Linked DNA regions of Homo sapiens. The protein of the gene in region 1 interacts with the protein of each later gene in a pairwise test. Each region holds a gene or a part of one and is shown in the gene's direction. Other genes may lie near its edges.

Region 1 (4,134 bases):
TATTTTTTATTTTTAGTAGAGTTGGGATTTCACCATATAGGCTAGGCTGGTCTTGAACTGACCTCAACGGATCTGCCCGCCTCAGCCTCTGAAGTGCTGGGATTACAGGCATGAGCCACCGTGCCCGGCCTATGGATTTTTTTCTTCTAAAAATTTTATAAATTTAGTTCTACATTTAGATCCGTGATCCATTTTAGGTTAATTTTTGTATAAGCTGTGAAATTTAGGTAGGTTTATTTTTTTGCATATGGATGTTCAGTTGTTTTAAAATCGTCTGTTGAAAAACTCTCCATTCCCCATTGAGTTGTCTTTTCACCTTTGTCAGAAATCAATTGCTATTTATGTGAGTCTGGTTTTGGACTTTATTCCATCGATCTATGTGTTTATCCTTTCATAAATACCAGATTGCCTTGATTATCACAGCTTTATAGTAAGTCTTAAAACTGGGCAGCATGATTCCTTCAAAATTTTTTTGAAATCTTTTTCAAAATTGTTTTGGCTAATTTAGTTTCTTTGCCTTCCATATGAATTTTAGAATTAGCTACTCTGTATCTACAAAAAATCCTACTGGGGTTTTGAATGCAATTTTGTGTCTTCCAATCCATGAACATGAGGTATCTATTTAGGACCTCTTTCATTTCAGTTATCAGCATTTTATGTCATTTTTCAGCATATATTCCACAGTGTTCATTTTGGAGGAACTATTGTTAAGTTGTATTATTTTTGAAACATGGGTTTCCAATTGCACATCGCTAGTATGTACAAATGTGTTTGATTTTTGTTTGTTGACCTTGTATCCTGTGACCTTGCTAAACTTCATTAGTTTTGGGAGTTATTTTGTTGTTAACTCATTAAGTTTTCTACATAAACTACGAATAGAAACAGTTTTATTTTATTCTTTTTAGTCTATGATTTTTCTTGCCTGATTTTGTTGTTAACTCATTAAGTTTTCTACATAAACTACGAATAGGAACAGTTTTATTTTATTCTTTTTAGTCTATGATTTTTCTTGCCTGATTGCAGTGGCCAGAACAATAACATGGAGAAAGTGGCCATCTCAGTCTTGTTCTGGATCTTAGGATTTTGAAAGCATTGTTTTTGACCATTATGTATGCAAGCTGTAGGCTTTTCTTAAATTCCCTTTGTCATGTTGAGCAAGTTCCCATCTATTAATTTGTTGTTAGCAGAGTTTCATGAGTGGATGCTGAATTTTCTATGCTCTTTCTGTATCAGTTTGGTCATTCTTTTTGTTTAGACTGTTAAAATCATGGATTTTACTGATTCCAGAATTTTGAAACAGCTTATATTTCCTCCCAACCCCAAACTTGGTCATGGTACATTATTCAGCTTATGTATCTAGATTTTTATTTTTTGAGGATTTTTATGTCTGTGTTCATTTTGGATATTGTGCAATTGTTTTTGTTTGTTTTTTCCTTGTGTTATCTTTATCTTGGTATGGTATCATGTTAATTCTGGTCTTGTAAAATGAATTGCAAAGTGATTATTCTTTCTGGAAGAGATTTGTAGAATTTGTTATATCTTTAAATGTTTTATGAATTTGCTAGTAAGGTTTTAAACAATGGTTCAATTTTTAAAAATAGAGAATTTATTGAGGTTTATTTAAGTTTGGGTACTGTATGCCTTTCAAGGAATTGGTTCATCTAATCCTATGTGCATAGAGTTGTTCATGGTATTTTCTTTGTGTCGTTCTAATGAGGATCTATACTGTTATCTTTTCTTTGATTCCTAAGATTGGAATCAAAGATTGGAATTCCTTCTCTTTTTTTGTCAATTTTGCCAGAGGTTTATCAATTTTACTGCTCTTTTCAAAAATTAGTTTTTTGATTGTTTTCTATTAATTTGTTTACAATTGCATTTATTTTCTGCCTCTTTTTTTTTTTTCTTCTTTCTGCTTGCTTTAGGTTTAGTTTGGGCTTCTTTTTTTTGTAGACAGGTCTCACTTCATCACCCAGACTGGAGTAGTGTTATGATCATAGCTCACTGCAGCCTCAAACTCGTGGGGTCATGATCCTCCTACCTCAGCCTTCTGAGTGGCTGGGACTATAGTGGTGTGCCACCACACCCAGTTAGATTTTCCTACTTTCTTAAAGTGGGAGCTTAGAGTGTTAATTTGAGAACTTTTTCTTGTTTAGTAAAAAGCAGTCGATTGTTATAAATTGCAGCACCAGCATGGCTGCATTCCAAGCACGGTGATATTTTCATTTATTTTAAAATATTTTTTAAGACTTCCCTGTAGTATCATGAGTTATTTAGAAATGTGTTGTTTAATTTCCAAGTGTTTGGAGATTTTCTTGCTGTTACTGATTTCTAGATTATGGTCAAAAAACATATTTTATATGATTTCATCTCTTTTAAATTTGTTAAGGTTTAAGACCCATGATGTGGTTTATCTTGGTGAGTGTTCCATGTGTACTTGAAAAGAATGCTTATTCTGCTGTTTTAGGTAGAAGGGTTTTATGTCAATTAAATCTAGCTGGTTATTAGTATTATTCCATTTTCCTACATCTTTGCTAATTTTCTATTAATTCTATGGACTACTGAGAGAGGAATGTTTAAGTTTCCAACTGTAAATGAAGATTTGTCCAGTCCTCCTTTTAATGCTACCACTTTTTGCTTCATGTTTTTTTTTTTTTTTTTGAGTCTTACCCTGTCACTCAGGCTGGAGCATAGCAACTCTGTCATGCTTCACTGCAGCCTCAAACTCCTGGGCTCAGACAGTCTTCCCACCTCAGGCTCCTCAGTACCTAGGACTACAGATGTATATCACTATGCCTAGCTAATTTTTGATTTTTTGTAGAGATAGGGTCTCCCTATGTTGAGTAGGCTGGTCTTGAACTCTTGGCCTCAAGCAATCCTCCCACCTTGGCTTCCCAAAGCATTGGAATTACAGGAATGAATGAGTCTCTGTACCTGGTCTCTTCATGTATTTTTAAGATCTGATAATAAGTGCTTACACTTTTAGCACTGTCTTGGTGAATTTTATCATTATATAATGTCCCTAATTATCCTTGGCAATTTTGGTTGTTCCTAACTCTACTTTGATGAATATAAAAATGGCTTTTTAATTTATTTTTTGAGACAAGAGCCTCACTCTGTTGCCCAGGTTGGAGAGCAGTGGTGTGATCTTGTCTCACTGCCTCACAGGTTCAAGCAATTCTCCTGCCTCAGTCTCTGGAGTAACTGGTACTACAGGCATGCGCCACCACACCCAGCTGATTTTTGTATTTTTAGTAGAGATGGGGTTTCACCATGTTGGCCATGCTGGTCTCGAACTCCTGGCCTCAAGTGATCCGTCCACCTTGGCCTCCCAAAGTGCTGGGATTACAGGTGTGAGCCACTGCGCTCGGCCTTAAAAATTGGCTTATCTTTTAATTCATCTTGACTCATGTTTACTGTTTTTTGGTTTCTGAAAAATAGATTTAATAAATAATAACATTTTATCAAAGTTATTAGTATAGAGAAATAAATTGAGTGTTGTTATTATTCTATGATCATGATGACAGCACAGAAGTTAATGTGGCCAGCATATAGTTTTGATTAAAAATTATACAAGCAATTTCACTTGAGTCCAATTAATCTTTTATTTTGAGAGGTAATGTATAGAGTGGTTAAGAGCACAGCCTCTGGAGTCAGAACTGCCTGGCTTTGAATCCTACCTCCAAGTACCAGGTATAGACCAGGGGCAAATCATTAGGTTCTCTGTCTCTCTTTCATTTGCAAATTGGGATAATGTCATTCAGTTGAGAGGATTTTAATGAGATGATTCATAGTACCAGAGAGTAAAAATTATCACTGCCAGCCACAAATGTTAAATCGAAAATATAAATTTTTAGATAGGATGTCTCATAATTGTAAATATGTACAAGGTTCAGATACTTTTTAAAAAATACTATGAAACATTATTAAATAAGTCTAAGGCAAGTCAATTATAAAAGGAGGCTTCTTTTATGAACAACTTTTCTTTCATCAGTAACTCCTTGCAGTGTCTACTTTACAGGATGTTAGTTTGAACATGAACTGTTCAAAATCATATTAATTAATTCAATTCCAGTAATAATTACAATTGATCCAAGCAGGCTAACATAACACATGGTGGTTACCTGGCATTAGCAA
Region 2 (5,225 bases), on another chromosome or scaffold:
TCACTGACATCAGCCAGGTGGGTGTCACATATACCTTGGGAAGGGGAAGTCGGGGGATGGCGGGGAGCCCACATCTGTGAGTTGACACCAGATTGGGGGCAGGGGAGTTCCCAGCAACCACAGGTTCCTCTAGCTTCCCAGCTGCACCTGCTCTGGGCCACCTACATCGGGGAAAGTACAGAAAAACCAGGCTTCCCCAATGGTTGCCCACCTGGCAGTGTGTATGGCTGGATTTAAAGACACAGCCACCTCCTGAGAATGTGTAGCCTCCAGCTTTGTCCCTACAGGGGGTGTTGAAGCCAGATGGCTCCAGACCCTTTGCCCAGTTTCTCCTTGCTTCCTCTCCTCTCTAGCCCACCATTGTGGAGGCTTTGCTGGGCTATGAAATGGTGCAGGTGGCCTGTGGGGCCTCTCACGTGCTGGCCCTGTCCACTGAGCGAGAACTATTTGCCTGGGGCCGTGGAGACAGCGGTAAGCTCCAGCCTTTAGGCCCCATCTCACAGCATCCTCAGCCATGACTTGCTCCCCTTCATACCCACCTTCCACCTCACAGCACATTCTCTCTTCCCTCTTTTCTCTCAAATTCTCTTCATTCATTCAACAAACCTTTATTTTACACCGACTATGTGCACACCCTGTGCTGGGTGCTGAGATGAGATGGAGATGTGGCTTCCTTCAGGTGTTTATGAGGTAATGAAGGAAATTTCATTCATCCACCTAGTTTTTTATTTTATTTTGAGATGGAGTCTCGCTCTGTTACCCAGGCTAGAGTGCAGTGGCGTGATCTCAGCTCACTGCAACCTCCACCACCGGGTTCAAGCGAATCTCCTGCCTCAGCCTCCCAAGTAGCTGGCATTACAGGCACCCGCCACCGCGCCCAGCAAATTTTTGTATTTTTAGTAGAGACAGGGTTTCACCATCTTGGCCAGGCTGGTCTCGAACTCCTGACCTCGTGATCCACATGCCTCAGCCTCCCAAAGTGCTGGGATTACAGGCGTGAGCCACCACGCCTGGCCCATCCACTAATTTTTTTTATTGAGGTCCTCTTTGGGTCAGGCATCAGGCTGGCCACTGAAACTAGAGATGACACTGATGGGTTCTTGTCTTCCTGGAGGACTCAGTCTAGTGGGAGAAAGATGACATTGCCAGCATGCCAGAGAACAGATAGCATCAGGGCTACACCCCAGTGCAGAGGCGTGGAATTCAGTGAACAGTAATGTCAACTGGAGGAGAGAGATGTCATTTGAACAGGGCTTTAAAGGAGGAGGATTTTGAGCCGGCGTGGTGGCTCACGCCTGTAATCCCAGCACTTTGGGAGGCCGAGGCAGGTGGATCACAAGGTCAGGAGTTCAAGACCAGCCTGGCCAACATGGTAAAACCCCGTCTCTACTAAAAATAAAAAAATTAGCTGGGCATGGTGGTGCATGCCTGTAATCCCGGCTACTCAGGAGGCTGAGGCAGGAGAATCGCTTGAACCCAGGAGGCAGAGGTTGCAGTGAGTGAAGATCATACCCTTGTACTCCAGCCTTGGCGACAGAGTGAGACTCAGTCTCGAAAAATAAAAATAAAAAATAAAGAAGGAGGATTTTAACCAGCAGAGGGGCCTAGGAAAGGCATTTGGGACTGAGAGAACAGAGAACTCATGCTGTTCCCTCCCCTCAGTGGGCCCTCCTCATTCGGGCATCACCCCCACTAAAGCTCAAATTAACTCCTTCTGGGTTTCTTCTTGTAGGCAGACTGGGGCTAGGCACCAGGGAGTCCCACAGCTGCCCCCAGCAGGTGCCCATGCCCCCAGGACAGGAAGCTCAGCGAGTTGTATGTGGTATCGATTCCTCCATGATCCTCACTGTGCCTGGCCAAGCCCTAGCCTGTGGGAGCAACAGGTGAATAGATCATCAGGATGACTAACCTGCCCCTGGCTCTCCTTGGCTGCAAGTGCTCCGTCCATCATTGCCTACCTTTCACCAAAGACCAGAATTGAGGGGGTTGAGGGTGCTATTGGTTCAACCCAGGGTGGGATCTGTCTCCTGGTGCACCAGCTCCTGCCCAAACTGTCTGTCAGTTGGATTTGGCTTCTGGCTCTGCCCTCAGGTTCAACAAGCTGGGCCTGGACCACCTCTCCCTGGGGGAGGAGCCTGTCCCCCACCAGCAAGTGGAGGAGGCCCTGAGCTTCACACTACTAGGCTCTGCACCCCTGGACCAGGAGCCTCTGCTGAGTATAGACCTGGGCACTGCTCACTCAGCTGCTGTGACTGGTGAGGAGGACTTGGGCTCTGGAGGTCAGAGGGGGACTCACGGTCTCCTTGGTACCCTGTTGAAGCACCCCTTTCCTTCCTCTCCCCCATAGCCTCGGGTGATTGCTACACTTTTGGCAGCAATCAGCACGGACAGTTGGGCACCAATACTCGCCGAGGCAGTCGGGCACCCTGTAAGGTCCAAGGCCTTGAGGGCATCAAGATGGCAATGGTAGCCTGTGGGGATGCCTTCACTGTAGCTATTGGGGCAGGTGAGGACTGAGCATGGTGGGGGCAGACAGTGCCATGAGCAGTGGGGGGTGGGGGTTGCTATTCAGGGCCACTGGACTCTGGAGCCTCCCAGGGGCCATCCTGGCAATGTGGGAGGGGAGATCCTGCTCGGGCTGTGCCCACTTCCCACTTCCCTCCTGGGGATTCTTCCTGGCAGAGAGCGAAGTGTACTCTTGGGGCAAAGGGGCGCGAGGTCGATTGGGAAGGAGGGATGAGGATGCCGGACTCCCTCGGCCAGTGCAGTTGGATGAGACACACCCTTACACGGTGACTTCCGTGTCCTGTTGCCATGGAAACACCCTCCTGGCTGTTCGATGTGAGTTGTAACTTTTCCCACTTCACCACACAGCCCAGCTGGCCCCTGTCCACACTCCCATCCCCAGTGTTCACAGATGGCCACATCACCAAAAGCATCTTTAGCCCCCAGATAAAAAAAGCAGAAGCTGCGGTTGAAAAGCTTCAAGCTTCCTGCCTGGGGTGGCCAAGGCTGGTGCTTCTTGGGCCTCATGGAAGGGCTGCCTCCACTGCTCCCCAGGGCTCACATGCATTCTTTCTCCTACTGCTGAGTCCCGTTGATGCTGAAACTCTCTTTCTGGCCTAACAGGGTCCAGAATCCAGGGCCCAGTGGGAGTGGGAGGTGGGTGATGATTTCTGGAGGCACTGCCCTCAGAAGCTGCAAGGGTTTCTCTTCGGTACCCTCCAGCGGTCACAGATGAGCCGGTCCCCCCCTGAGGCACCCGGATTCACCTCTGGACCACCCTGATATTGCTTCTCCTCTGAATGCTCTGAAAAGTGCAGGTGCCCAAGGCATGACTTGCAGCTGTCTCCTGGATTGTGTCATCATGGGGTATCAGGGCTGGCAAAACCCCTGCTCTGCTTTTGGCCTTGGATATGGAAACCTCAACCACTTTGTTCTCCTACCACCTCTTTGCCCTTCCTACCCCTTCCTCCCTTCAGTCAGTGTCCCCAGGGTCCAGCCTGGCTAGAGTTAGAAGGCAGACCTAGCCTTTGGAAGCAGGGTGGCCTCCAGAGCCTTGCCATAAAAAGGCTGAAGGCAGCCGGGCGCAGTGGCTCACGCCTGTAATCCCAGCACTTTGGGAGGCTGAGGCGGGCGGATCACGAGGTCAGGAGATCGAGACCATCCTGGCTAACGTGGTGAAACCCCATCTCTACTAAAAATACAAAAAAATTAGCTGGGCGTGGTGGCACGCGCCTGTAGTCCCAGCTGCTCAGGAGGCTGAGGCAGGAGAATGGCGTAAACCCCTCCAGCCTGGGCGACAGAACCAGACTCCGTCTCAAAAAAAAAAAAAAAACAAAAAAGGCTGAAGGCAGCTGTAGCTCCACACAGACCCTACCCTTTCCCCTAGCCCAGTTAGAAAATAAGTCTGGGCCGGCGGCGGTGGCTCACACCTGCATAGGCAGTGCTTTGGCCAGGAGGATCCCTTGATCCCTTGTGGCCAGGAGTTGGGAGACCAGCCTGGGGACCATAGCGAGACCGCTGTCTCCACCAAAAAAAAAAAAAAAGAAGAAAATAAGGCTGGGTGCGGTGGCTCACGCCTGTAATTCCAGCACTTTGGGAGGCCAAGGCGGGCGGATCACTTGAGGTCAGTAGACTGAGGCCAGCCTGGCCAACATGGTGAAACCCCGTCTCTACTAAAAATACAAAAATTAACCAGGCATGGTGACGGGCGCCTGTAATCCCAGCTACTCTGGAGGCTAAGGCAAGAGAATCCCTTGAACCCGGGAGGTGAAGTTTGCAGTGAGCCGAGATCGCACCACTGCACTCCAGCCTGGATGACAGAGCAAGTCTCCCTCTCAAAAAAAAAAAAAAAAAAAAAAAAAAAAAAGTATTTGGTGCTTACCGGGACTCTATCTCCATACTTTGGAGCAGGGCAAGCCAGGGCCTGCCTGGACTGGCCATTAGGCCTGCCTAGCTTCTGCATAGCCCGGGGCTGGGCGGTCCCCGGGAGTGCTGCCACCTCCCCTACACTTTCATCCTGAGGCAGGATTTGCTAGACGTCGGCTTGCCTCTCTTCCCCAGCAGGAGGGCAGGAGTCACTAAGTGCTGCAGAAAAGATCCGCGCTGGAGATTGCCCGTCCCCCCCATGCCTTTCCCCAGAAACAGTTGAGAGAATGGGTAGCTGGTGGGACCAGACCGGTTTCCCAGAGGACAGGAAGGCCAATAAAAATATCAGCTGCCTGCCTGGAGTGTGGTGTCTTCAAGGGTGGGGGTGGCGACCAGGCACCCCAGGACTGGGCTGGGCCCGACCTCGGTGGCAGGGCTGCGGCCAAGGGAGGAATGTGGGCGCAGCCGGAGGCTGGGGCCGAGGTTCCTCTGGCCCAGCGCCCAGTCCAGCCTCCCCGCCCCAGCTGGGCTCCCCGGAGCTGGTTGCCAGGCTTCGGCTGCCTAGCACCTGGAAGCTGGGGCCACGGTTCCTGGGCTGCTCACGGCCCCGGAGGCCGAGCTGTTGCCTCTGGAGAAGAAAACCTTTGTGGCGCGGCCCGTCCCCTTTTCCGACCCGCACTTCCCCGGGGCCCGCGGGCTCTGGGGAGAAGCGGAGCCACGATCTCTGTCCCCCAGGGGAAAGAAAAGCCCATGATCCCGTGGGTGGGCGAGACTGGCGGTCACCAGACCCAAAAACCATGCACTCGGGGGTGGGCGGGGCCGCGAGGGCGCGCATTAGGACCGCGCGGCCGCGG

The links. Proteins that work in one complex are often made in the same cells at the same time.
Region 2: the proteins of NUDCD2 (region 1) and NEK8 interact in binary tests that used the Homo sapiens proteins (3 or more experiments, as listed by UniProt).

The regions. Positions count from the first base shown.
Region 1 is NC_000005.10:163,445,969-163,450,102, reverse strand, and holds the end of NUDCD2 (nudC domain-containing protein 2), read left to right. Parts: 3' UTR 1-3,577; downstream 3,578-4,134. UniProt on the Homo sapiens protein: May regulate the LIS1/dynein pathway by stabilizing LIS1 with Hsp90 chaperone.
Region 2 is NC_000017.11:28,738,731-28,743,955, forward strand, and holds the end of NEK8 (serine/threonine-protein kinase Nek8), read left to right. Parts: coding exon 1-17; intron 18-353; coding exon 354-471; intron 472-1,732; coding exon 1,733-1,883; intron 1,884-2,091; coding exon 2,092-2,255; intron 2,256-2,347; coding exon 2,348-2,506; intron 2,507-2,682; coding exon 2,683-2,841; intron 2,842-3,228; coding exon 3,229-3,257; 3' UTR 3,258-4,725; downstream 4,726-5,225. UniProt on the Homo sapiens protein: Required for renal tubular integrity. May regulate local cytoskeletal structure in kidney tubule epithelial cells. May regulate ciliary biogenesis through targeting of proteins to the cilia.